Regions from separate parts of the Homo sapiens genome. Here regions 2, 3, 4 and 5 are each linked to region 1. The links come from fine-mapping of genetic effects on gene expression. A gene starts in region 1. Each other region holds a variant in brackets. All regions are shown on one strand. Distances are between the middles of the regions. Region 1 holds the start of PADI4 (peptidyl arginine deiminase 4). Region 2 overlaps PADI4 (peptidyl arginine deiminase 4). Region 3 overlaps PADI3 (peptidyl arginine deiminase 3). Region 4 overlaps PADI3 (peptidyl arginine deiminase 3). Region 5 overlaps PADI4 (peptidyl arginine deiminase 4).

Region 1 (5,101 bases):
CCTGCCCTCAGCCCTGCCCATCACAGAGCCCGTGGCCCTTGTTCCACTGTGAGTGACCAAGTGTGTTTCTACAAAGAGGCTTTGCTTCCAAAGTGCAGCCGTTTTCCCTCAGTGTGAGTGAGTGTGTGTGTGTGTGTGTGTGTGTTACAAACCTAGTTTTGCATTGCTCCCTGTGTAATTGCAAATAGCATGCATTCTCTTTTGCATCTCCTCTCCCTCATCACTCCCCTGGGTCTCTGGTGGAGGACCCCAGGGCTCATCCCTCGGCCTTCTCTCTTCCCTATCCTCACTCATTCCCTAGGGGAGCTGGAGATGTTGACATCTCACTGTTTTATCCTTTTCAGCCTGGTCCTGTCTCTTAAGCTCCGGAATCATGTGTTCAAACGTCCTACAGGGCATCATCACACCAAATGACACTTGGCAAAGCCAGGACCAAACTCCTGATCTCCACCATGCCCACCCCCCGCCCTTCCCTCAGCCTTCCCTGCCCAGCTGCGGGCAGCCCCATCCCTCCAGGGCCTCAGGCTCCAAACTGCGGTGTCCTCCTCCATCCCTCTGTCTTTCTTAACACCCCTCATCCAGTCCCTCTGCAACTCCTATTGGCTGTATTGCATCACAAAATGTCCAGAACCTGACCCATCCTCCCCTCCTCCACTGCCACCACGCTAGCCTGAGCCCCACCGTCTGTCACCAGCCTGTGTGCAGCGGCCACCTCACAGGTCTTCTGGCCTCCTCCCGGGTCCCCTACAGTCTGTTCTCACATCACAGCCAGAGTGATCACGTTCAAGCAAGTTGGTTCGCGGTCCTTCTCTGCTCAAAATGACTCCAGGCTCCCCACGTTACTTGGAGCAGAGGCCAAAGCTCTTAGGATGCCCGAAAGGCCCTATATGATCGCACCCCGCCCTGGGCTGCTCTCCCCCTCCCTCACTGCATTTCAGCCACACTGGCCTCTTTGCTCTTTCTTGAACCCGCCAGGCATGTCCCTGCCTCAGGGCCTTTGTACCGATTGCACTGGCTGTTCTCTTGACTTGGAACCTTCTCCCTGTGTTCCTGGTAGCCTTTACCCTGTCCTTTTTCCTTTTTCTACCCCACTAACATACGATAGAATCCACTTACTGCATTTATTGCTTACTGGCTGTCTCTCTCCCAACAAAAACAAACAAACAAAAAGGCTCTATGAAGGCAGGATTTTTGTCCACTTTGTTCACAGCGTATCCACGGTGCCTGGAACAGTGCCTGGCCATCAATAGGCACTCAGTCAGTATTTGTTGAATTAACAAAACTGCTTTGGGGCTCGTCCTCTTTGTGGCTCGTTCACAGCAAATTTAAACCCCAAACTGCTGAAGAAAATAAGAAAGAAAAGAAGGAACAGAAGAAAACAACCTCAAGAGACCTAAGACTTGGGGTAGAGGCCAGCCCTCCCTCTGATTTGCTGTGTGACCGTGGGCAGGTCCCACTCCCTTTCTGTGCTTCAGTCTCCCCTTCTGCAAAACGAGGACTGGATTGGGTGTTCTCTAAGGGCCCTCCCAACTCTAACAATGGACAGCTCCCTCCTGCCACTTCCCAGTAGAAGCTCAAACTAGTTCTAATCATGCGGTCAGCCAGAGAAATTGGGTTTATTAACACTGTGTGCAGGCAGTCATGTAGATGCGTCAGAACGTCGGACCTGGCCACATCATCATCTGCTGGTACAGAAGATAAATTTTGAGCCCAGAGAAGGTGGTCTGAATCCAGATCCCCACTGTAGGGCTTATGAGACCTTGGGGGTCTCACTCAATCTCTCTAAGTCTTTGTGGTCTCATCTACACATGGGCATCCTGATAGGACGCACTCCATAGGGATGTTGAGATGAGGCAGGATTTGAACTAAAGCCTGTTTGATCCCACAGCCTGACTCTGAATTAATGAGGCAAATTCTTTGCTTCAAAGCCAAAGCAAGCAAACAAAAAACAAACGCAAGATATCCAACCCACGAAACGCTCTATGTTCACGCCAGACTCCCATGCATGCACCCTTTGAGTGCTCCTTGTTGGGACCCATCCACCACCCCCCAGTTGCCTCATTAAAGGCAGAGCCTGGCACCAATGGCCCAGGTGCAACCACAGCTCTGAGGCCACATGGGCATCCCCCTGGCAGGCGTGGCCCACACCTGCACTGTCTGGTCTGACACCCAGAGGCCCTGGCAAGAGGCAGGTATCCTGGAGCATGCAGAGAACATCAACTTCCATGCCAGGAAGCTCATCTTCTCTTCCCAGCTCTGCCGCATTCTAGCTCTGGCACCTTGGGCAAGAGCTAGTCACTTTTACTCTCTGAGCCTCAATTTTCCTTCTGTAAAATGGGTTGTAATAATAAGCCCATATACACCTTGTATTGTAGCGAGATGTAGCTGTGATACAGTCTGGAAAGCACGTGTCATATAGACAGGCAGCTAATGAATCTCACACTCTGGAACTGGACACCTTTGGTTCCAATTCTGGCCCTACCACTCTCGAGCTGTGGAAGAACTGCACCTCTGTTTTCTCCTCTGTAAAATGGGTATAATAATGGCACCAACCTCAGAGGGCTGCTGTGAGGGTGAAATAAGGGGATAATGGTATGATCTAGTTCACGGGTTTGTCGTAATGAGCTATTCTATGTGAAGTGCAGGAAAACGTGCCTGGCATAGAGAATGTGAGCTGTCATGTGGGTGGCCCAGGTGGAGAGACTTGTCCCAAGCCTGGTTGGTCTTTGAACGTGTAGCCTGGCCTGTGACTGCTTACCTAAAATCTCCCCGCTTTTCCCACCTTCTCCTCTCTGATATGCCTGTTTGACATAGGTGAGATTGGATAGATCAAGGTGTTCAGGGCCTCTAGGCAGGGATGGGACTGTGGGCATGAGGACCAGGACCCAACCCCTCAGCCCCACTCTCCACCCCAGGCTTTCTGAGCCATCCATCCTTCCCAAGAAACTGACAGAGCCACCCTGCCACTGGTACCAGCATTGACACCCATCTAGAGGTCCGAGGGGCAGCCCCAGGGCAGAGGAGATTTTGAGAGCCCACACCCCTGACCTGAGTGGGGAGGGGTTGAGCCTCTGGGCCACAGACCGCAGGTGCTGACTCATGGCCTCTGCTGGGCGATATAAAGGAACCAGCCCAGGGGCTTCCTACAGCCAGAGGGACGAGCTAGCCCGACGATGGCCCAGGGGACATTGATCCGTGTGACCCCAGAGCAGCCCACCCATGCCGTGTGTGTGCTGGGCACCTTGACTCAGCTTGACATCTGCAGGTAAGAGGGGGGCCTTCTGGGGTTTTGGAGGCAGGTCAGGAGATGCTGGATGACCCAGTTCTACTGACACAGGAGCATGTGTTTGGCCCAGGCTCTAGGCTCCAGCCTCTGCAGCCACTGCCAGGGGAGTAGCTGGAGAGAGAAGACCCCAGCAGCCCTGGGAAGTGCCAGTCTCATGGCTGTGGGTTCTTTGCCATGTACAAGTGCAAATTCCCCAGGAACACACGACAGATAAATTATTATGGGGCAAACCAGGCCATCCATCTCCCTGTCTTCATCGAGGCAACAGAAGCTTACAGAGAGTCTGTGACTTGCTCAAGGTCACACAGCACGTGTGCCCTGGAAGTAAGGTTAGCCCCTGGGCCTCCTGGTTCACAGCACAGTTTGTTACCCCACATCTCTTAGCTAAGCCTCCCTCAGTGGGTGCATAATAGCGTGGGTGGGGATGGCGAAACGGGGCTCTGTGGCGGCAGAGACTGAGGTAGGAAGCCTGGACCTGCTGCTGGCTAGCAAGGAGGCCTTGGGCAACTGAGCCTCAGTTGCCTCATCTGTGAAATGGGGATAATACTCACATCATGGGCTGGTTATAGGAATTCAATGTGAAAAAATGTGCAGATGTTGGCTGAGTACTTAGCACAGTGGTGGGCCCATCCTTGGTAGTTTTTATTTACTCATTTAACAAATGCTGAGTGCCATGCTCTGTGGCAGGGTCTGGGTTAAACAAGAGAGTTGAGGAATGCTCTCGGGGAGTGTGCAGGGTCATTGTTGTTATTGTAGAACAGGAATTAAAAGAAATTTTAAAACGTGTAAGCAAAAACTCAGTTCTATGTTAAAAAAAAAAAAAACAATTTTCCCTGGAAAAAAAAAAAAAAAAGAGCTGGAGTCCCTTAAAAATTAACTGCCTGTTTTTTTGTGGCTAGTGAGCCTTATTGCTCCTCTTTTTCCAGGCATTGTAAAGACCCTGTTTCTCCAGCTGTGCAGCTGCAAGGTCACTAGACAGATAAACTCAAGCTGTAAAAATTTTTTTCCTTAAAAAGTAAAAAATAATATAATGCATGTCTCAATTAAATAACTGTCTTTGTTTCTTGCCTCTATAATATGCTTCCCCCTGCACAGATCTACCCCCGCCCCATGAAATGCTTAAAAGATAACTTAACTCTTTGTTCAGGGCTCAGTCTTTTGAAATGTTAGCCTGACTGAGCCAGTGAATCTAAATAATAAATCCTCCTCAACCCCTCGGTCTCTCTGATTCCTAAATTATCCTGCAACAATTGCTGTTGTCAGGAATAGGAGTGGTTGCCCCTGGCTTCCCCATCCCAGTCTGGGCATCGGTGGCCCTAGAATGGTGCCCACAGGAGTGCCGGGGACATTTCTTTGCTACTGCCTGAGCCCCAGCAGCCAGAGAACAGCAGGAAATGTCGGGATGGTCTCCCAGGGCCACATGGTGGAGGCAGGAGACCAAGAAGTTGGGGAGAAAAGGAAAAAGAAAATCACCTGACATCATCTGAGGCGCCCCCAACTCCTCTGAGAATGGGTGTGAAGGAAATGACAGGAGCTGAAGCTAGCCCAGGGCCTCTCCCAGCATGCCCAGGCTAGCCCTCTACCCAGCGTCCATGAGTAGTAATCAAGATCACAAGTGCTTCCTCTGGCCCTAGAGAGGTGGGTGGACAGCTGGTCAGTGTTGGGCAGAGAGGAAGGCACTGCCCATTTCTCCCAGAAAGGATGGGGACTCCGGAGTTCACAGGGGCCTCTAAATCCTTCTTTTCTCCTCCTTCAGCCACACGTTGAGCCTGTCACTCTATCCCCTGAACATCTCACGTAACAATGGCTAATATT
Region 2 (5,101 bases), 40 kb after region 1:
ACCCTGCAAAGCCACAGGGGCAGAGCTGCCTAAGACCATGGGAACCCACCTCTTGTGTCAGCATGACCTGGATGTGAGACCTGGAGTCAAAGATCATTTTGGAGCTTTAAAATTTGACTGCCCTGCTGGATTTTGGACTTGCATGGGCCCTGTAACCCCCTTGTTTTGGCCAATTTCTCCCATTTGGAATGGTTGTATTTACCCAACACCTGTACCCCCATTGTATCTAGGAAGTAACTAGCTTGCTTTTGATTTTACAGGCTCATAGGAGGAAGGGACTTGCCCTGTCTCAGATGAGATTTTGGATTGTGAACTTTTGGGTTAATGCTGAAATGAGTTAAGACTTTGGGGGACTGTTGGGAAGGCATGATTGGTTTTGAAATGTGAGGATATAGGATTTGGAGGGGCCAGGGGCAGGATGATATGCTTTGGTTCTGTGTCCCCACCCAAATCTCATCTTGACATGTACTCCCATAATTCCCAAGTGTTGTGGGAGGGACCCAGTGGGAGATAATTTGAATCATGGTGGCAGTTTCTCCCATACTGTTCTCATGATAGTGAATAAGTCTCATGAGATCTGATGGTTTTATCAGGTTTTTCTCCTTTTTCTTCTTCCTCATTTTCTCTTGCCACCGCCATGTAAGAAGTGCCTTTTGCCTCCCACCATGGCCTCCCCAGCCATGTGGAACTGTAAGTCCAATTAAACCTCTTTTTCTTCCCAGTCTCAAGTATGTCTTTATCAGCAGCGTGAAAACGGACTAATACACGGGTGGAAGGGGTACCCACTAGTTCCTGCCTCATAACTTGTTAGATGGATTCCATGAGCTAATGCCTGCTAAGAGCAGATGGACCGGACGTGCCAGGAGCCTCTGTTCAGGCCACAGGTGACCCCTGAGCCACCTGTGTGTCCCTCCCAATCCTTCCAGGCTGAGCTTCAAATTCCAGAGCACTAAGGAGCTGCTTTTCTGCTCTCTCTAGTATTTTTGAAAATGAGGACTTCCTGAAGTCAGTGACTACTCTGGCCATGAAAGCCAAGTGCAAGCTGACCATCTGCCCTGAGGAGGAGAACATGGATGACCAGTGGATGCAGGTATGTGCCCTGCGGGGCAGGCAGGGTGACTGTCCCTGAGGGCCAAGAGACACTTGGGGGACCCGGGCTCCTGGGGTTCAGCCTGGTGCCTCACCGGCCACTCTTCCTTAGATGGACAGGGAGATAGGAACCTGAGAGATCCTTGGGCCGGGAGGCTCAAGCAAGTGATTCATCTGACGTTTGCTGTGGGCCACTGCAGGCCCACTGCAGTCACCAAGATGAAGCCACCTTCCTGCTTGAAAACACTCAGGTGGCCTCAGGAAATGATGTGAAGCTCAGGAGATTGGTGCTCAACCAGCCCCTCAAGTGGTCCTCCCTCCAGGCTGTCCATCTTGGGCCCAGCCACCAAAGCAGGTCACACCCCAGCTCCAGCACTTTCCATGGCTCCCATCTCCTCCTGCTTAGTCTGTTTCCAGGCCCTCTCAGCCTGCCTGGTTCCCTTCCCTGGGGCCAGCCTGCCACTGTGCCTGGAAACACATGATTACCAGTCTCTGTTTCCGTGCCACTCCCCCATCATGCCAGGAGTGCCCCAAGGACTGAGACTGGGCCTCATCCAGCCTAGCACCCTGACCCTCCCCACCACTGCCTTGCTTTGCCTCGGGACCCTGTCCTTCCATGCCGCACCCCTGCGGTGCTGTCTCTTGGACCCATCTCCCCATTCCCATCCCCCATCTCCAATCCATACCGGTGAATCCCAGCACAAATGCTCCTCGTCCATAAATTTCCCCCATCACCCCCAGCAGGAATTCATCCCTCTTTCTTTTCACCCCCACACAACATCCTTTCTTCCTTTCTTGCCATTCCATCTTTTCTTTTCTTTTTTTTTTCACTCTTGTTGCCCAGGCTGGAGTGCAATGGCTCGATCTCGGCTCATCACAACCTCTGCCTCCCGGGTTCAAATGATTCTCCTGCCTCAGCCTCCTGAGTAGCTGTAATTACAGGCATGTGCCACCACGCCTGGCTAATTTTGTATTTTTAGTAGAGATGGGGTTTCTCCGTGTTGGTCAGGCTGGTCTCGAACTCCTGACCTCAGGTGATCCACCCACCTCAGCCTCCCAAAGTGCTGGGCTTACAGGCATGAGTTACTGCACCTGGCCGCCATTCCATTTTTTTGATACCAAGTTGACCTGTGTGAAATTGCTGATATGTGCCATTTTTGATTTGCAAGAGTGGAACTTTCATCTGGTTCATCCTAATAGTAACTTATAGTAGTGATTATGTCCAACATCACACCTGCCTGCTAGAATACAAGCCTGCGGAGGCGGAATTTTCAGCAGATTCATTTCTGAAACCTCCCCGTGCTCCTCCTGCTGCTCCAGTGGCCCAGGCTGGGTCTTATCTGCCCTCCTTTGGGGAGGAGGCCGCGAGCTCTGGCGCCAACAGGTCTTCTCTGGCCCATCCTAGCTGCATCAGGAGCCCCTCCTCTGTGTCCCCACAGACCCCTCAACCCCTCACCCCCCATCACCTCCTAACCCTGGTGCCCACTGCCTGGCTCCCTTGTTTTCTCACCTTGAGGAGGGGTCTCAGTTTTGCTCACCAGGGGTCCCCAGCACTGGCCCAGGCACCACCAGGAGTAGGAGGGAAGGGCACTCCTGCAGGCTCATGGCCTCTCGTGCACTGGGCAAACAGGGGGCAATAAGCTCCGCTTCTGAGCCCCTTCTCTGAGATCAAACATCCCATAGGAATGTGCCCTTGACTGCAAGGGTGAGAGTGAGTGGATGGTTTCATGCCCCCATCCTGGCGTCGGGCACCAAGACCCAGGCAGCACGCGCAACAGCCTCCTCTCCACTCACTCCCACAGGATGAAATGGAGATCGGCTACATCCAAGCCCCACACAAAACGCTGCCCGTGGTCTTCGACTCTCCAAGGAACAGAGGCCTGAAGGAGTTTCCCATCAAACG[C/A]GTGATGGTACCTGCATGGGGTGGGGAGGGGGCACAGCTGCCGAAACCCTCTTGTCTTGAGACTCCCTCCTTTTAGCCTGCCTTCCCCGCCCGCGCCTGTAGCTGAGTAGCCCAGTGCAAGGAGGTGGAATTCCTACCAAAGTGGGAGCATGTAGGTGGGGCTTGTTATTTTTTTATTACCAAGATAAGATCTGGCTCTTCATTTCCCAAAACCCTTGTCACCCGTGAGCTCAGCTTGATCTCCAGGTAACCCTGCCGAGGAGGTGGCTCAGGCTTGGACCTCCCTGTGCTCTTGAAGAAGCTCTTGCTGCAAGGTGGAGGTGGGGCCGGGGCTGGAATCTTTCCCAATGCCCAGCTGGAGGCTCTGTCTTATGGGTGGTGTTTGGTCTTCAGGGGCTCCATCTGGGATATGGGGGATTTTGGGATCAGTGGATCAGTGGTCATTTCCTGGGTGTGACTTTATCAGCCACAGGCTGTCCATGTGGAGGTGGGAAGTGACGTATTGCTGACTCATGCTTGACTAGCCTGGCAGGTTGATGCAAACTCAGCACAGAACAATAATAATAATAGTTGCATTTATTGAGAATGAGTTGTGTGTTAGCCAGTGCTGCATTCTTTACCTGCACTGACTCATTTAATTTGATAAACTGTTATGGAGATTCTATCAATAGGCCCATTTTATAGAAGAAGAAACTGAGGCTCAGAGTGGAGAAGTTGGAATTCAAACCCGGCCAGTCCGGCTTGGTGAGCATGCTTTTCCCCGCCCTGCCTCCCTCTCCCTGCTTTCCCAGGAAGACCCCAGGCCTGCGCTCTGAGTCCTGGCAGCCCCTTGGCTCAAGGTGCCCAGGGAAAACGACGGAAGGAGTGTGGGGTCCAAGGTTTGCTAGGACAAATGGCTTTCCGACAAGCATCTGTACTGTGCCCCAAGGGAGGGGAGAGTGGCCCTGCCCACACAGAAGGCTTCAGAATGAAACTTCAGTTAAACTCAACAACTTGTCCCGAGTCTCGCTTCCTCCTGGCCAAGCTGTGCGCTGAGCAGTGGAGATGCAGAGATGCTGTTGGATTCACAGTGTGTACTCAGCCATGGGGTCGAGTTCATCCTGTTTCAGCAGCGTTGGGGCGAACCAGCCAGCTGCTACCGTGACTTTGCCCTCTTTCTGCTGCTTTCAGTCCTGCCTGGTTCAGTGGCTGTGTCTACTTTGATGCTCCAAGTATAACAAAGGCCAGATTTTCTGATGCCACAAGTCCTGCTGGACAGACAGACGGACACCTCGGCACCATTGTTGTCCCCTTTCCCACAGACAACTTTGGATGAAGGCAGGCAGCACTGGTCCCTCAGCTAAGCACATCTGTGTATTCCAACTCAAATCACTCAGAATGAGGCCAGGTGTGGTGGCTGACACCTGTAATCCCAGCAGTTTGGGAGGCCAAGGAGGATGGATCACCTGAGGTCAGAAGTTCGAGACCAGCCTGGCCAGCATGGCGAAATCCCGTCTCTACTAAAAATACAAAAATTAGCTGGGCATGGTGGTGTGTGCCTGTAATCCTATCTTCTCAAGAGTTTGAGGCAGGAGAATCCCTTGAACCCAGGAGGCAGAGGTTGCAGTGAGCCGAGATTGCACCACTGCACTCCAGCCTGGGTGACAGAGCAAGACTGTATCAAAAAAAAAAAAAAAGAAAGAAAAAGAAAAAACAACAACAAAAAACACCCAAATCACTCAGAATGAAGAGAATTGGAGAAAAAGTCACACTCAGCACCAGGCTTTGGCCCCACCTGCCTCTCCAGCACCATTGTAGGCCACTCTCGCTGTCCCTTACCCAGCCCCACCTCCACTGGCCTCCTTCCTGTTCTTCAAACTTGCCTAACGTTTCCCCACCTCACGGTCTTTGCATATGCCGTTCCCTCTGCTTGCAGTGCTGTTCCCTGTTCACGGGGCTGGCTGCTTCTCAGCCTTCAGGTTTCAGCTTCTATTTCCTACTCAGTGAGGCCTTCCCTGATGCTAAAAGAGGGATCCCTACTCCCACCCCAACTCCTAGCCTTCTCCACTACAGCCCCCTGTTGACTTCTTCAGTGTATTTTGTTAAAATCATGGACTCGTTCATCTACTT
Region 3 (5,101 bases), 50 kb before region 1:
TCCAGCATTTTTTTTTTTTTTTTTGAGATGGAGTTTTGCTCTTGTTGCCCAGGCTGGAGTGCAATGGGGCTATCTTGGCTCACTGCAACCTCCGCCTCCCAGGTTCAAGCAATTCCCTGCCTCAGCCTCCCTAGTAGCCGGGATTACAGGCATATGCCACCACGCCCGGCTAGTTTTGTATTTTTAGTGGAGACGTGGTTTCTCCATGTTGGTCAGGCTGGTCTCGAACTCCTGACCTCAGGTGATCCACCCTCCTCGGCCTCCCAAAGTGCTGGGATTATAGGCGTGAGCCACTGCGCCTGGCCCACCAGGCTCCAGCATTTCTAAGACAACCTACTCTAAGCCGTGATTCTCAGATGTCAGCAAATATCAGAATGGCTTAAAATGCGGTTCCAAGGCCCCACCTGGAGCACTTCTAAGAATCTGCATTTTCAATAAGGTGGGTCTGAGGTTGGCTACTTTTAGGGAGGCCAACTGTTCCTGTTTGTCTGGGACCTTGCAGGTTTTAGCACAGCAAATTCTGTATCCAGGAACAGCCTTAGTCCCAGCAAACTGATGCTGTTGGCCACCCTACCACATTTTACCCCCAACTCACCATCTTAGGCTGGCTGTGCCAGAGGAGCAGTTGAGTTCTCCGGCTGGCTTGGGGGGTGTGGGGCTGGGAGAGCCCTGGACAGGCCTGTGCATGGAAGCCTCAGCGGCGAGGGTCCAAGGCCCTGAGCCCAGGACTGGACCAGAAGCACTGCCTAGAAAGCCCAGAAGCCAGCATGTGACAGCTCAGCCATGCTGGCAGCTCGAGGTGGCCTGGAGAGGAAGGACTTTGTCCAGGTGAGGCTCCAGGTACTTCCCCTGTTCTCTAGGAAATGGGAAGCTAGATCCTCCCGTACCTGATGCAGGTTCTCCTCCCAGCAGCTGCCCCTCTCATTCTCCTAACACACAGCTTTCATGACAGGCATGAGCACTGGACTGGAAGTCAGCAGCCCTACCTTCTAGTCACTTATCTTCTGGGCCTCAGTTTCCCCATCAGTGAAATGAGGGCATGACTTTTGCTCATCCTGAGTGCTTTACCCACACTGGTTCCTTTCATCTTCTCCTCATCCCCACCAGATAGATGTCGATGCTGCGGCTGAGGGAGGCAGTCACTCGCTCAAAGTCACACACCTAATGAGTGGTGGGACTGGGATTTGAACCCAGTTGTCTGGCCCCAGGGACCACAGGCTCAAGTACCTTGCCACGGCTCCATCATGTTGCCCCTCCTGATCAAGAACCAGCGCTGGCTCCCCATTACATAGGGATGAAATGAAAACAAGCTCATTATAGCCTGAGTCTAAACTAGACCTCTTAAGGTTCCACGGTGAAAACACCTTCCCCTCACTTGTGTCTCCTCTTGGTGCCTTCCCTGGGGAACCTGCCCCAGCCACCCAGCCCACTGTCTCATCCTGCCTCCAGACCCGTTTCCTGCACCCTCATTTACTTTAATAACTCCTTCCCTGTCCTGGGCCAATGGTGTTGCAAGCCTTTCCTGTCTATTATCACACTTGAGTTTCATGATTGCCCATGAGGTTGGCCAAGTAGGTGTCATTATCCCACTTTAAGGTGAGGTTAATGGGCCCAGAGAGACTAAGTGATTTAGTCAAGCTCAGCTGGCCGATGTGTGACCCAGCCTGGTCTAAAACCTAATTCTTGACTCTGGTCCCAGCACCACCTGAGCCCTCGGCTTGCAGCCCCTCCCTTCCCCAACCTCAGATGTAGCTTGTTCACCTGTGCTAAGCCCTTGTTCAGACCGTGGTCCTGGGGACCCTCCTGGGCAGGGGTGCTTCAGTCTTCACTGGGGATCCCCCAGCATCTCACACAGAGCCTGGCACATGGAGAGGCAGGGGCGCTGGGCTGAAACACCCTACACCCAGGGGCTGGAGCCTGGGGACTGAGTGGGGTTTTCATACCAGAAGGACCATCAAGGGCGCTCAGCCCTTGCCCATGGACACTGGAGGCCCAAGGAACAGCTTTGGGGTTGAGGGAGTTCCATAAAAAGTGTACAGGCTTCAGCCAGGCGCGGTGGCTCGCGCCTGTAATCCCAGCTGGGAGGCTGAGGCAGGCGGATCACTTGAGGTCAGGAGTTCAAGACCAGTCTGGCCAATATGGTGAAACCCTGTTTCTACTGAAAATACAAAAATTAGCCGGACACGGTGGTGGGCTGTGTTGTCCCAGCTGCTTGGGAGGCTGAGGCATGAGAATTGCTTGAACCCGGGAGGTGGAGGTTGCAGTGAGCCAAGATTGCACCACTGCACTCCAGCCTGGGCGACAGAGCAAGACTCTGTCT[CAA/C]AAAAAAAAAAAAAAAAAAAAAAAAAAGGCTTCCTTGGGAGATGGAAGGCGAGTGCCTCAGGAGCGTGGCTGAGGGTGTTCCCGAGGGTATGAGAGGCTGCTCTTCCTACCTGGGTTTGTCTTCCTGTGTCTCTTTCCGACTCCCTGTCTCTGACTCTCCATCTCGCTGGGTCTCTCCAAGTCTCTCTGTCCCTATCTCTCTGTCTCTGTGTCTTCATGCCTCTCTCCCTGGTTCTGCCATTTCCCCTGTGGGGGGCTGCCCAGGGCCAAACAGGCCAGAGGGCTCCACCAGCCCTGGAAATTACAGGCTTTGGGAGTAGGGTTGCCAGATAAAATAAAAGATGCCTAGTTAAAATTGAATTTCAGGTAAATAATTAATAATTTTTTTAGTATAAGTGTATCCCAAATACTTCACGGGAGTACCAAACAATGATTGACTGTTCACTTGAAATTCAAGTCCAACTGAGCTTTCTGTATTTTTATTTGCTAAGTCTGGCAGCCCTGCTTAGGAGGAGAAACAGGTGTGTCTGTCCCTCCCAACTGGTGAGGACACCTGACAGGGGCCCAGACACCAGAGTGGGACCTGCCTGATGGAGAGAAGCTTGGGCTTGGTTTATTTCCCTTTTCATAAAAAAGCTGCTTTGAGATGTAAGAGAATCATGTTGGTGGAAGAGTGAAGAGGTTGTTTTGGGGGAGGTCTGCCTTACTCTGAGGGAAGATGGGAAGCGGGGGGAGTGGCCAGCTGTGGAAATTTGGGGTAGTCCCCTACGTATCCTGTGCCTCAGTTTCCCCATGTGTAAACAGGAGTAATTATCTCATCCTGGGGCTGCAGTGAGGATCAGATGAGCTAATGTACAAAAAGGCTTAGGCAGGCCTGCCGTGATAAGAGTGCAGAGGCTGGGGGCTTTTTATGTTATGGTATTGTTGTTATTATTACTCCTGGGGAGGTGGTGGGCAAGAGTGTGGACTGAGGAGCCACATGGCTGGGTTTGGATCCCAGCCCGGCCACAGACCTTGGGCAAGTTACTTAACCTCGGCTTTCTCATCTGTATAATGGGAGACAATAATAGATAGTGCCTCCCTTCTAGGGTTATTGAGAGGATTGCATGATGGGCTGGCACACAGCATGAGCTCAGTAAGTGTCAGTCACTGTTATCCCCCAGGGGCATGCATGCCGCTGCCTCCAGGAGGCCCTCCAACTCGCAGTGGCCTCTCCCTACATGGGTTCCCACTGAGCTGTGATCCTGTGGCCTTGAGCCCCATCTGGCTGCCCTGGACAATGTTGGTCCTCAGCTCCCCAGCGGGATCAACAGTGGGGAGAGCAGTGGGTGGATCTGCCCGCCAGGCAGTACCTGAGTGCACAGTGGGCACCCCACAGTCAAAGGATGCATAGTCTGGTTTCCAAGGAGGAACCCCAGGCTAGGTGGAATGAGGGAAATGCAATCTCAGGGCCAGATAACATCACAGATACTTTAAACCTGCAATTAATTTCTGGTTGTTTGACCAAATCCGGCCAAGTTTCCCGGGTGACACTGCAGAGCTGTGGAACAGCATGGGCTTGGAGTCAGACCTGTTGCACATCTGGCTCTGCCATGTGATGCAACCTCAGGCTTGTCACGAGGCCTCCTTGAGCCTCAGTTGCTAATATGCCAAATGGGGATGATATTGCTCACCTTACAGCTTGTAAGAGTGGAGGGAGCTGCGTGCGCCAGGTGCCTGGCATGCAGCGGGCACTCAACCAGATTGAATTCCCTTCCCAGGGAAGAATTCAAGGATATCTTCCCACCCACTAAGGAGACATGTGATGGGATCTGGGGTGAGAATTGCTCTTTTTAAAGCTCTCAGAACTGTAAGGGGCTCCACCCACCAATGGCTGGTGTTCACTGAGCTCTTCGTGCCCAGACCTGCACTGGGGATTTATCGAGCACATGGCTGGCTTCTGACTTCCGAAGAGCTCGCCATTCTGGTGAGTGGTAAAGAAACTCACAAGGGAAATGTTAATGAACACAGGGGCTTAGAACATCAGACTGTGTGTATGTTTTTTTGTTTTGTTTTGAAACAGGGTCTTGCTCTGTCGCCCAGGCTGGAGTGCAGTGGTGCAATCTTGGCTCACTGCAACCTCTGCCTCCTGGGTTCAAGCGATTCTCCTGCCTCAGCCTCCCCAGTAGCTGGGATTACAGGCATATGCTACCACGCCTGGCTATTTTCTTGTATTTTTAGTAGAGACAGGGTTTCACCATGTTGGCCAGGCTCGACCTCAAGTGATCCGCCCGCCTCGGCTTCCCAAAGTGCCTGACCTCAAGTGATCCATCCGCCTCGGCTTCCCAAAGTGCTGGGATTAAAGGAGTGAGTCACCACGCCCGGCCGACTGTGTATATGTTTGTGTGGGGTCCAGGCTTGACTCGCAGGAGCTTACTGTGAGGATCTGAGGGGACTGGGTGGCCAAGGAAAGCTTCCTGGAGGAAGCAGGGCTTGAGCCAAAGCTCAAACATCTGAGCAAAATATATCTCCTTCGGCACCGACCATGGCTCTCTGCCCTGCCCAGGTCAGTGCCTGAGGGCACAGAAATGTTTGAGGTCTATGGGACGCCTGGCGTGGACATCTACATCTCTCCCAACATGGAGAGGGGCCGGGAGCGTGCAGACACCAGGCGGTGGCGCTTTGACGCGACTTTGGAGATCATCGTGGTCATGAACTCCCCCAGCAATGACCTCAACGACAGCCATGTGAGCTGGTCCCTGGTGGGGTGGGGAGAGGTTTCGAGGGAGGCAGCTGTCTA
Region 4 (5,101 bases), 26 kb before region 1:
TTTCCAGCCCCACTGAGACTGCATGAATCCCAGAGGATCCTCCCTTTCTCAGTGACCCCAGAGGTCCCAGGGCAAAGACCCTTTGACACGCAGGATCATAGATTTTCTTGGTCCCATGGCCTCAGGGAAGGCAGATAGCATCCTAGACCAAACACAGCTCAGAGAGAAAAAAAGCTCCTGTAGAACTTAGACGCCCCCAAGTATAATAATTTCCAAAGTCCCCTTGCTCTCTGTTTGCTAGCGTTAACTTCTTCCAACACAACCCTGGAGCCTTAGCAATAAAATGGAAGAGAAATAGTCTTTCTTGACCCTGTTGCTCCCAAACGCACCCTAACTAGACTCCGGTGAACCTAGAGTAAGTCTTAGAAATCCTTAAATCCAAATTATGTACCAGGCAGGGAGAAATGCCACCTTCATCTTTCCTGGGAGAACTTATGGTGAGCAAGACCCAGGAATGGGTTGAGCAGAGTTATTCCAACCTGCCCAGCTGGGAGGGAGCGTGGGAGAATTCACAGATGGCAGGCCACAAGCAGCCACCCCACCCTCGAGGGCTGACACTCAGGCAGTGACTGTGGCGATTAATTACATAGACACAGAGGCCAGACACAGAGGCCAGAGCACTGATTAGACACCTCAGTGCGCCAGGCCTCACGCTGTGTGCATCACACGTGTTATCTCATTTGATCTCACGAGAGATCAAATGGGATGACTCTCACCCACCTTTATTCCCAAGAATGTGAGGCTCAGAGAGGGGATGTCACTGGCCCAGAGGCCTCAGCAAGATTGCAGTGGAGCTGGGACTGGACCCCAGCTTCCTGCCTTAAACTGGGGTGAAGCGGGCGTTAGACCTGCAGATGGGTCAGGGGAGCCCTCTCCTTTCCCTTGGTCAAGGCTTGAGGCCCTGTGCGAGCCCTGGGCTTGGGTTTGAATCACAAGCCCCCACATATCCTACCTGTGTGACCTTTGGCAAGTCTTCTGACCTCTCTGAGCCTCAGTTTTCTCATCTGTAAAGTGGGGATCATAATGCATACCTTGTGGGGGTCACCGTGAGGGTTAAATGAGATGCTGAACCTGGGCACTCCCCTCGGGGCCTGCTCATGGTAAGCGCTTACTAAGTAGCAGCCATGAGGATTGTGTGCCATTGACTCTAGCCTCCGCTTCCCTGTCCAGTCTCATCTGCATGGGCACACCATCAGGCTGAGAAAATCTGGACCCCTGGGAGGTCCCCATTTCACGCAGTCACCCCCTGAAGGGCAGGATTGGGGCTGGATGGTGTCTGAATCCCAGGACTGGCTGGTTCGCTGCTCAGTGAACCTATAAAACCTGACTGATGGTGGGTGGGTGGGCAGCAACTGACCCAGCTCCCCGCTAAGCCAAAGCAAGAGGATTCCTCATCCAGTGCCCTCGGGCAGTTGTACATTTCCAGTGACAGGCGTTACCACTTCCAGTGAACTCAAATAAAGGTCTCAGTTCATTCCACTGTGGCAACCAGACCCTCCCACTCCTTATACCCCAAGATGTGCACAGTGGCCAAGGCAAGCTCAGACAGGTGGAACCCACCCAAGGCCTGGGAAAGTCAGAGGCTGCTGACTCGGCAAGACCATTAGCTGTGAACTTGGCTCCTGCCTGTCTGCTTCCCTAAGCAGGTGGTCCTCACGTTGGTGCTGTCCCTGTCCTTCTCTTTCATCTCTCTCCTTCACAGATGATGAGCAGGTCAAGACCATCTCCATCAACCAGGTGCTCTCCAATAAAGACCTCATCAACTACAATAAGTTTGTGCAGGTACAAGGGCTGTGGTGTACCTGTGGGCTGTGATTTGGGAGTAGGCGGGGCTGGAGGCAAGGATGGGATACAGACATCTGAGGCTAACTGTTCATGAAAGCTCAGGTTAGAACAGGCCCAGACAGAGGGGTCCCAACACCCTC[T/C]TTTGACCCAGAAGAAGTGAGGGGAGCGACAGGATGCCTTGGTGCCCCCAAAACACACTGGCAAGGTGTCCCCAACTCTGGCCCTCCCCTGCCCCCAGAGCTGCATCGACTGGAACCGTGAGGTGCTGAAGCGGGAGCTGGGCCTGGCAGAGTGTGACATCATTGACATCCCACAGCTCTTCAAGACCGAGAGGAAAAAAGCAACGGCCTTCTTCCCTGACTTGGTGAGGGCACTACCCATGACTCCTTTGCCAAATCAGGCTGCAAACCTCTAAGCTCGAGAGAGGAAAAATGTCTGGTCACAGTCATATTTAGGATTGTGGTGGCCAGTGGGGGTGGCAGGGAGAATCAGGGGTCCTATGGTGCTCCTCAGAAGGGCTTCTAGCTGGCTGACCACCATGGTCCCTGTGGAATGCTTGCTGGCCAAGCCCTGGCCCAAGGGGCATCAGGGAAGGGGTCCACTTGACATTTGTGGAGTGAATGAATGATTGCATGAGGTCACGTGTGCAAAGCACATGGCATCAGCTGGGAACCCAGATGCTCATTCTGCTCTCTTCCTCCCAGCTTGTGGCTCTTCATCCATCCCACATGTATTTAGGGTGTCCTGTGGCAGATGCAGAGATGATTAAGAATGCCCCCTGCTCTCAAGGGACTTTCAGTCTAATCGGTTGAGAGGGAAACTCTTCCCTTCTCTGAGGACATGTCCCAGTGATCTATTTTGTAGGATAAGGCGATGTGGCAGTTTGGAGGTGAGACAAAGCACTTCCAGCCTAAGAGGTAGAACTGGAGATCCAGGAAGTCTTCATGGAAGAAGTGGCTTTTGACTGAGCCTTGAGGGCTTTGCCTCTGATGCTTGTAAATCTTTTTTTCTTTTTTTCTTTTTTTTTTTTTGAGACGGAGTCTCACTCTGTTGCCCAGGCTGGAGGGCAGTGGCACAATCTCACTCACTGCAACCTCAGCCTCCAGGGTTCAAGCGATTCTCCTGCCTCAGCCTCCTGAGTAGCTGGGATTGTGGGATTGCAGGCGTGCACCACCACGCCCGGCTAATTTCTGTATTTTTAGTAGAGATGGAGTTTTGCCATGTTGGCCAGGCTGGTCTTGAGCTCCTGACCTCCGGTGATCCACCAGCCTCGGCCTCCCAAAGTGCTGGGATTACAGGCGGAAGCCACCGTGCTTGGCCTGCTTCTAAATCTTGAGCTTGCCTTTGAAACACCTGGACAGGTGGGGCCCCACCCCAGCGGTCCTGATTCAGCAGGTCTAAAGCACGGCCCGAGGCACTGCTGCCGCGCTAACAAACACCCAGGTGGTGCTGATGCTGCCTTTTAGAGGAACACAGTTTGAGTAGCACTGCTATAGGTCACCCAGCTCCCCTCTCCACTCCTCCCCACCTCATCCCCTAAAAGAACTCAATTTGCCCATTGTCAGAGCCTTGTGGGGAACCTGTCCACACCACCATTGCTTCATGCCCCGCTTTTTCCTTCCTCTTTTCAGGCAACATTTTGCCCTCCGCTTGCAAAGCCTCTTTTCACTCCCCTTCCTTCCTGTTCGAGGCTATCTTGTAATTATATATGTGCCCCAAGAAGTTTGTGCAATGATTCAGGTTCTTGTGTTCGCAAGAGACAGAGTCCTACTGAAGCCAGCTTCAGCCAGAGGGAGTCTTAATATAAGGACACCAGAAACCTGAGGGCAGGATAGCTGCAGCAGAGCCTGGAACCCTCTCTGTTTCTGTGTCTACATCATTCATTCTCTCTCTTTCTCTCACCCTCTCCACCTCCTACTTCTTCTCCCTCTTCTTCCAGCTTGGCTTCCTTTGCTTCTCTGTTCCTGGGGACAAAGATGAGTATGGCCATGCACAGAGACACTGACACGGGCAGAGACCAACTAGACGCTCCCATTGTCAGTTTCAAATTCCTGGGAGAGGGACTCTGATTGGTCCATCTTGGACCAGCTGTTCTCCCTGGCCCAATCAGTTATGGCCTAGAAGGTTGGGATTCTGCAGCACAAACATGGCAGCTGCCACAATCCACAATTCCAAATTCACATTAGGGCAGTTTCCAGAGCACGTTGCCAGAGTGAGTTCTGCGGATGCTCCCAAAGGCACCTGGCTAACCGGTTCTTCCCAGCCCCTTTAGCCAGTTACCTTCTCATTGCACAGGAAAGGGTGAGTAGCTATTGACAAGGCTGTCTAAAACACAAACCTAGGTCCTGCAGGTAGAGTAGAGGTGTGGGGTGGGAGCCCAGTGATGAAGTGCTGCTTCCCCTTTGGACTGCAGGTGAACATGCTGGTGCTGGGGAAGCACCTGGGCATCCCCAAGCCCTTTGGGCCCATCATCAATGGCTGCTGCTGCCTGGAGGAGAAGGTGCGGTCCCTGCTGGAGCCGCTGGGCCTCCACTGCACCTTCATTGATGACTTCACTCCATACCACATGCTGCATGGGGAGGTGCACTGTGGCACCAATGTGTGCAGAAAGCCCTTCTCTTTCAAGTGGTGGAACATGGTGCCCTGAGACAGCTCCCACCCACCATCCTGTCCCCCTGGGGCGGGCATTGGCCCAGGTGGTGGAGACAGAGACAGGCCCCTGAACGATAAGCACCAAGAGACCCCAAGGCTCCAGATGGAACACTGAGGGTGACCGTCCCTCTCAGAAGCCTTTTCCCTGGAAGTGTCCATGCCTCACCTGCAACCCATGTGGTTCTCAGACTTGAATCTTCTCGGCCCCCCAAAAAGAAGGACCTCATTTCTTATAGCCTCTCCTGTGATTCAACACAACCCATGGAGATGTCCCCTTCTCACTCTGAAATCATCCATTTGGGGACAAATCCACATTGGGGTCTAGAAACATCCACGTATCTCATCAGCCATCTTGTCCTGTGCATCCTAACAGAGGAAGGATCCATGATTCTGCTTTGGTCCAATTGCTTCCTCTCTGCAGAGGAACAACCCTAAAACCAGACCACTCCACGCAGGACAGGCAGGAGAGATTCTTCCTAAAGCCTCCCCCATAAAAAGGGAGCTGTGGATCCACTTAGATCAGGGCGGAACCATCTTTCACCCGGCCAAGCTCCTGCCCAGATGTTGACCCTCACCCAGCGTGAGCTGTCACATAGTAGGAGCTTCTAGATGCATGTGGAAGCAATGAGAGTTGTCCCTTAGCCTTATAAACTCCCCATGATCT
Region 5 (5,101 bases), 34 kb after region 1:
GATGCCAGGGGACAGCCTCTGTACAGTGCCTGACATGCGGTAATAATCACAACAGCTGTCCTTTGTGGGCACTCCCGGGGTGCCAAGAGCTGGTATAAGCACTGTGTATCACCTGACTTTATCTTCACAACCATTCTACGGTGGGTACAACTCTTGCCCCTGTCTTAGTGATGAGGAAACAGAGGCAGAGAAAGCTGAAATCCGTTTCCTAAGCCCACCCAGATCCCAGATTCAAACCAAATTGACCGCAAAGCCTTTAAGCCCTTGGCTATCAGTCAGTCCCTTGGGAACCATCTCTTCACTCTCCCCACCCTCTACCCCTTCTTGGCTATTGTTCAAGTTGGTTCACAAACCCCACTTCTTGCTCAGGACCAGCACAGAAACCTTTCACTCGTTCATTGCACAAATCTCAGCCGAGCGCCTGCCGCCTGCTGGTCATTGTTCTAGGGAGTTCTCGGCTTTCTAGGTTCAAGATTCAGGGAACGTTGCAAGGAGCAAAATATTAATAAATGTGGTCCCCGCTTTGCTGAGGTTACATCCCCAGCTCATCCTAGTGGGAGGAGACCAAAACCTTAATGAGCTCTCATTCCAAAATGAAAACCATCATTTAAATACTCAAAATAGCATAAAGAAAAGAAAACCAGGCAACATGGTAAAGGGAGGTCTCAGGGGAGCGGTGGGGTGTGAGGCTCCACCAGGAGGTGAGGTGGCTATGGGAAACCAGCAGCGGTCTCAGGGCCCTGTGACTCAGGCAATGCCCTTCTCATCCCAGACCTGCAGGACATGTCGCTGATGACCCTGAGCACGAAGACCCCCAAGGACTTCTTCACAAACCATACACTGGTGCTCCACGTGGCCAGGTCTGAGATGGACAAAGTGAGGGTGTTTCAGGCCACACGTAAGTCATCCCCATCTTTGTTCCCCTCCTGCCCTGGCCAACGGGGCACAATCCTGTCACACAGCTGTGTGGCAGATAAATCCTGAGCACCTACTATGTGCCAAGTTCTAAGAACAGCAGACGCAGCAGTGGGCAAGACAGACGACATCTCGTCTACTACCTTCCAGTTGGAGGACACAGACAAAATGACTCGTTATTGCTCCCTGCTTTTCTTTCTCTCTCTCTCACACACGCGCGCGCACACACACACACACACACACACACACCTCCTGGTTATAGACTTTGAGTGCAAGCTGACAGCATGTGGCATGTAATCATTTGTTCTGCAACATCCTGCTAATCAGAGACATCAGGAACTTCTCAGTGACCCACGAGCACCTGCAACTAAGTAGGTGCCAGGTTGATCCCAGGCACGGGGCACAGAGCCATGACTGTGACCGAGTCCCTGCCCTCGTGTTGCTTTCATCTTAGTGGCTGGGAGAACTATAGGTAAAATAATTACATAAAACACCTAGTGTGTCCAACGCTGTGACATGCTATGTAGAAGAATGCGGCAGGGAAGGGGATGTGGAGTGAGGAGTGGAGTTCGGGTTGTGTGGAGAGAGGGTGGCCAGGGAAGGTGTCCCCCATGAGGTGCCATGTGAGCAGAGGGAGGTATAGGAACAGCCAGACAGACACCTAGGGGAAGGGCGTTCCAGGCAGAGGGAACGGCAAGTGCGTGGGCCCTGAGGTGAGATCATGCCTGTGGTTTGGAGGAATGCAGGGAGGCTAGTGCAGCTGGGGCGGAATGTGCAAGGGTTAAAGTGGGGGATGAGGGTGGAAGAGACAGGGCAGAGGGGAAGGGGGAGGTCAGGTAGGCGTATATTGACTTTGGCTTCTGGATGGAAGGAGATGGAGAGCGCCATGGGAGGGTTTTTTTTTTGCATGGGCCTGACAATCATTCTGATCCTGATCATTCTGCCTGGTCTATTCCAAGCTTTTTTTTTTTTTTTTTAATTTTTTTTTTTGAGAGAGTCTCACTCTGTTGCCCCGGCTGGAGTGCAGTGGTGCCATCTTGGCTCACTGCAGCCTCCACCTCCTGGGTTCCAGAGATTCTCCTGTCTCAGCCTCCCCAGTAGCTGAGGTTACAAGCATGTGCCACCACATCCAGCTAATTTTTGTATTTTTAGTAGAGATGGGATTTCACCAGGTTGGCCAGACAGGTCTCGAACTCCTGACCTCAAATGATCCACTTGCCTCAGCCTCCCCAAGCACTAGGATTACAGACACCATGCCCAGCCTCTGTTTCTTTTTTTTTTTTTTTTGAGATGGAGTCTCTCTCTGTCGCCAGGCTGGAGTGCAGTGGCGCAATCTCAACTCACTGCAACCTCCACCTCCTGGGTTCAAGCAATTCTCCTGCCTCAGCCTCCCGAGTAGCTGTGATTATAGGCATCCACCACAATGCCTGGCTAATTTTTTTGTGTTTTTAGTAGAGATGGGCTTTCACCATGTTGGCCAGGCTGGTCTGGATCTCCTGACCTTGTGATCCTCCTGCCTCGGCCTCCCAAAGTGCTGGGATTACAGGCGTAAGCCACCACACCCGGCCTGTTTCATTCTTAAAGTGATTAAACTGACACTGATTTGGTGACAGGTCAACTTATTGCCTCCACCCAGGCATCACCTCCTCCAGGAAGTTCTCAGGGATTCCCTCTATCACAGCTGTCTGCTATTTTCATGATCTCTGCTTCTCCCTACTCACCCGTAAGACTGTGCACTCTCTGGGGGTGAGGATAGGAGGACAGTGACTCTGTCTCCCTGGTCCCCTGCTGTGCCCCTGTCCCCCGCTGACATCTGGCTAGAGCAGATGCTCAGGAATGAGTGAAGGAATGGTGTATACTGGACTTCCTATAAAGTTTGGAATAGCTCAGGCACCCCTGCCACACCCTTCTGGGACTTCAGCCGGGGAGCAGCGTCCCAGCTAGAACTTCAGTCCTTTTCTCCTAAGGGGACTGGCCAGATTTGGCTGCAAGGGGTTCTCTGATGGTGCCATGTGGTGACCCTGGGAAAGGCTTCTGGGGAGCACTAAGGAGAGGAGGAAAAGTCTTCAGAAGTGGGGACGCAGACCTGAGTCTCCCCTGCCTCTCTCCTAGGGGGCAAACTGTCCTCCAAGTGCAGCGTAGTCTTGGGTCCCAAGTGGCCCTCTCACTACCTGATGGTCCCC[G/A]GTGGAAAGCACAACATGGACTTCTACGTGGAGGCCCTCGCTTTCCCGGACACCGACTTCCCGGGGCTCATTACCCTCACCATCTCCCTGCTGGACACGTCCAACCTGGTAGGCCGAGAAGGCAGCCCTGCATCGGGGGCCTGGGCTTCCAGGCAGTGGCCTGGCTAGGGAAAGGGGTACAGAGCCCAGCTGGGCAGGGGGACTCCAAACAGCTGCAGGAAGTGGTAGGTGCTGGGCCCTGGCAGCGGTGACAGCCCCTCCTTCCCCTTACCCCCTCCCCTGCAGGAGCTCCCCGAGGCTGTGGTGTTCCAAGACAGCGTGGTCTTCCGCGTGGCGCCCTGGATCATGACCCCCAACACCCAGCCCCCGCAGGAGGTGTACGCGTGCAGGTGAGAGGTCCTGGGGTGCTGGGGTGGGTCCAGACAACAAAGAGCCTGAGTTCCATCCGCAGCACTCACTGTGTGATGGGAAAAACAGTCACCCCTCCCCTGCCCACTGAGAGCTTGCTGCTTGTTGGGGGCTCTAAAAAGGCAGGGAAGTTCCCTACTGTTGTTGTCATTGCCTCTGTCCTGCCCTGATGCAGCTGAGGCTACGTTAACTCCCAGGGGCCTGTAGAGTGTGTCCCATGGACCTTGTGCACCAGAAACTCCTGGGAACTCATTTAAAATGCACCTTTCTGGGCTGGGCACGGTGGCTCACGCCTGTAATCCTAGCACTTTGGGAGGCTGAGGCAGGTGGATCACTTAAGGTCAGAAGTTTGAGATCAGCCCAGCCAACATGGTGAAACCCTGTCTCTACTAAAAAATACAAAAATTGGCCGGGCGTGGTGGCGCATGCCTGTAATCCAGCTACTCAGGAGGCCGAGGCACGAGAATTGCTTGAACCCTGGAGGCGGAGGTTGCAGTGAGCTGAGATTGCGCCACTGCGCTCCAGCCTGGGCAACACAGTGAGACTCCATCTCAAAAATAAAATAACCAGCCTGGCCAACATGGTGAAACCCCGTCTCTACTAAAAATACAAAAAATTAGCCAGGTGTTGTGGCATGTGCCTGTAATCCCAGCTACTCGGGAGGCTGAGGCAGGAGAATCACTTGAACCCAGGAGGCCAAGGTTGCAGTGAGCCGAGATTGCACCATTGCACTCTAGCCTGGGCGACAGAGCAAGACTCCGTCTTGAGAAAATTAAAAATAATAAAAATTAAAAATTAAATTAAATTAAATTAAATTTAAATTAAATAAAATGCACCTTTCTGGCTGCCTGTGAGCTGCTGGGTCTTATCCCTGAGGACGGGGCCCATCTGCATTTTGGGGAGGCCCAGGCAATCTTCCTGCAGTCTGAGAGCCGCTGACAAGTGTGCTGGGGTCTCAGGAGACCCTCTCCTCCCCTCTTCTGATAGCTTCAGGGGCAGAAGAGTAAGAGGGTAATGTGGTCAGGACGCAGGCTGGAATCCAGTGAGGACTGTATTCCGGTCCCAGCACTGTTCCAGGTGGTGTGACCTTGAACAGTGAACTCATATTCTGTCTTCTCCCAAGTTGATATGGTTTGGCTCTGTGTCTCCACCCAAATCTTATCTTGAATTGTACTCCCACAATTCCCACGTGTTCTGGGAGGGACCTGGTGGGAGATAATTTGAATCATGGAGGTGGTTTGCCCCATACCATTCTCATGGTAGTGAATAAGTCTCATGAGATCTGATGGTTTTATCAGGGGTTTCCACTTTTGCATCTTGCTCATTTTCTCTTGCCGCCGCCATGTAAGAAGTGCCTTTTGCCTCCCACCATGGTGTCCCCAGCCATGTGGGAGTGTAAGTCCAATTAAACCTCTTTTCCTTCCTAGTCTCAGGTATGTTTTTATCAGCAGCGTGAAAATGGACTAATACAGTAAATTGATACCAGTAGAGGGGGGCGTTGCTGAAAAGATACCCAAAATGTGGAAGCAACTTTGGAACTGGGTAACAGACAGAGGTTGGAACGGTTTGGAGGGCTCAGAGGAAGACAGGAAAAT

What was found. PIP is the estimated chance that this variant, and not a neighbour inherited with it, causes the effect.
Region 2: its variant is the best candidate, but not a certain one, in a credible set for the expression of PADI4 in monocytes (TOPMed, PIP 0.79).
Region 3: its variant is the best candidate, but not a certain one, in a credible set for the expression of PADI4 in monocytes (CEDAR, PIP 0.73).
Region 4: its variant is the best candidate, but not a certain one, in a credible set for the expression of PADI4 in blood mononuclear cells (TOPMed, PIP 0.81).
Region 5: its variant is the best candidate, but not a certain one, in a credible set for the expression of PADI4 in whole blood (INTERVAL, PIP 0.59).

The regions. Positions count from the first base shown.
Region 1 is chr1:17,305,050-17,310,150 of GRCh38, forward strand. It overlaps PADI4 (peptidyl arginine deiminase 4), which reads left to right and starts at 3,148. Exons shown (of 16, transcript NM_012387.3): 1 at 3,148-3,265. The coding sequence starts at 3,174. RefSeq lists an enhancer at 1-330.
Region 2 is chr1:17,345,050-17,350,150 of GRCh38, forward strand. It overlaps PADI4 (peptidyl arginine deiminase 4), which reads left to right. Exons shown (of 16, transcript NM_012387.3): 9 at 979-1,090; 10 at 2,892-2,999. Among named protein-coding and RNA genes, the nearest start is that of PADI6, 25 kb to the right of the region's middle. The variant C/A (reference allele first, on the strand shown) is at 2,993.
Region 3 is chr1:17,254,711-17,259,811 of GRCh38, forward strand. PADI3 (peptidyl arginine deiminase 3) reads left to right here. Exons shown (of 16, transcript NM_016233.2): 2 at 4,868-5,048. Among named protein-coding and RNA genes, the nearest start is that of PADI3, 8.2 kb to the left of the region's middle. RefSeq lists enhancers at 4,324-4,825, 4,826-5,101. The variant CAA/C (reference allele first, on the strand shown) is at 2,321.
Region 4 is chr1:17,278,648-17,283,748 of GRCh38, forward strand. It overlaps PADI3 (peptidyl arginine deiminase 3), which reads left to right. Exons shown (of 16, transcript NM_016233.2): 14 at 1,703-1,782; 15 at 2,024-2,149; 16 at 4,199-5,101. The coding sequence ends at 4,432. Among named protein-coding and RNA genes, the nearest start is that of MIR3972, 3.3 kb to the left of the region's middle. The variant T/C (reference allele first, on the strand shown) is at 1,926.
Region 5 is chr1:17,338,916-17,344,016 of GRCh38, forward strand. It overlaps PADI4 (peptidyl arginine deiminase 4), which reads left to right. Exons shown (of 16, transcript NM_012387.3): 6 at 773-898; 7 at 3,028-3,206; 8 at 3,384-3,487. Among named protein-coding and RNA genes, the nearest start is that of PADI6, 31 kb to the right of the region's middle. The variant G/A (reference allele first, on the strand shown) is at 3,099.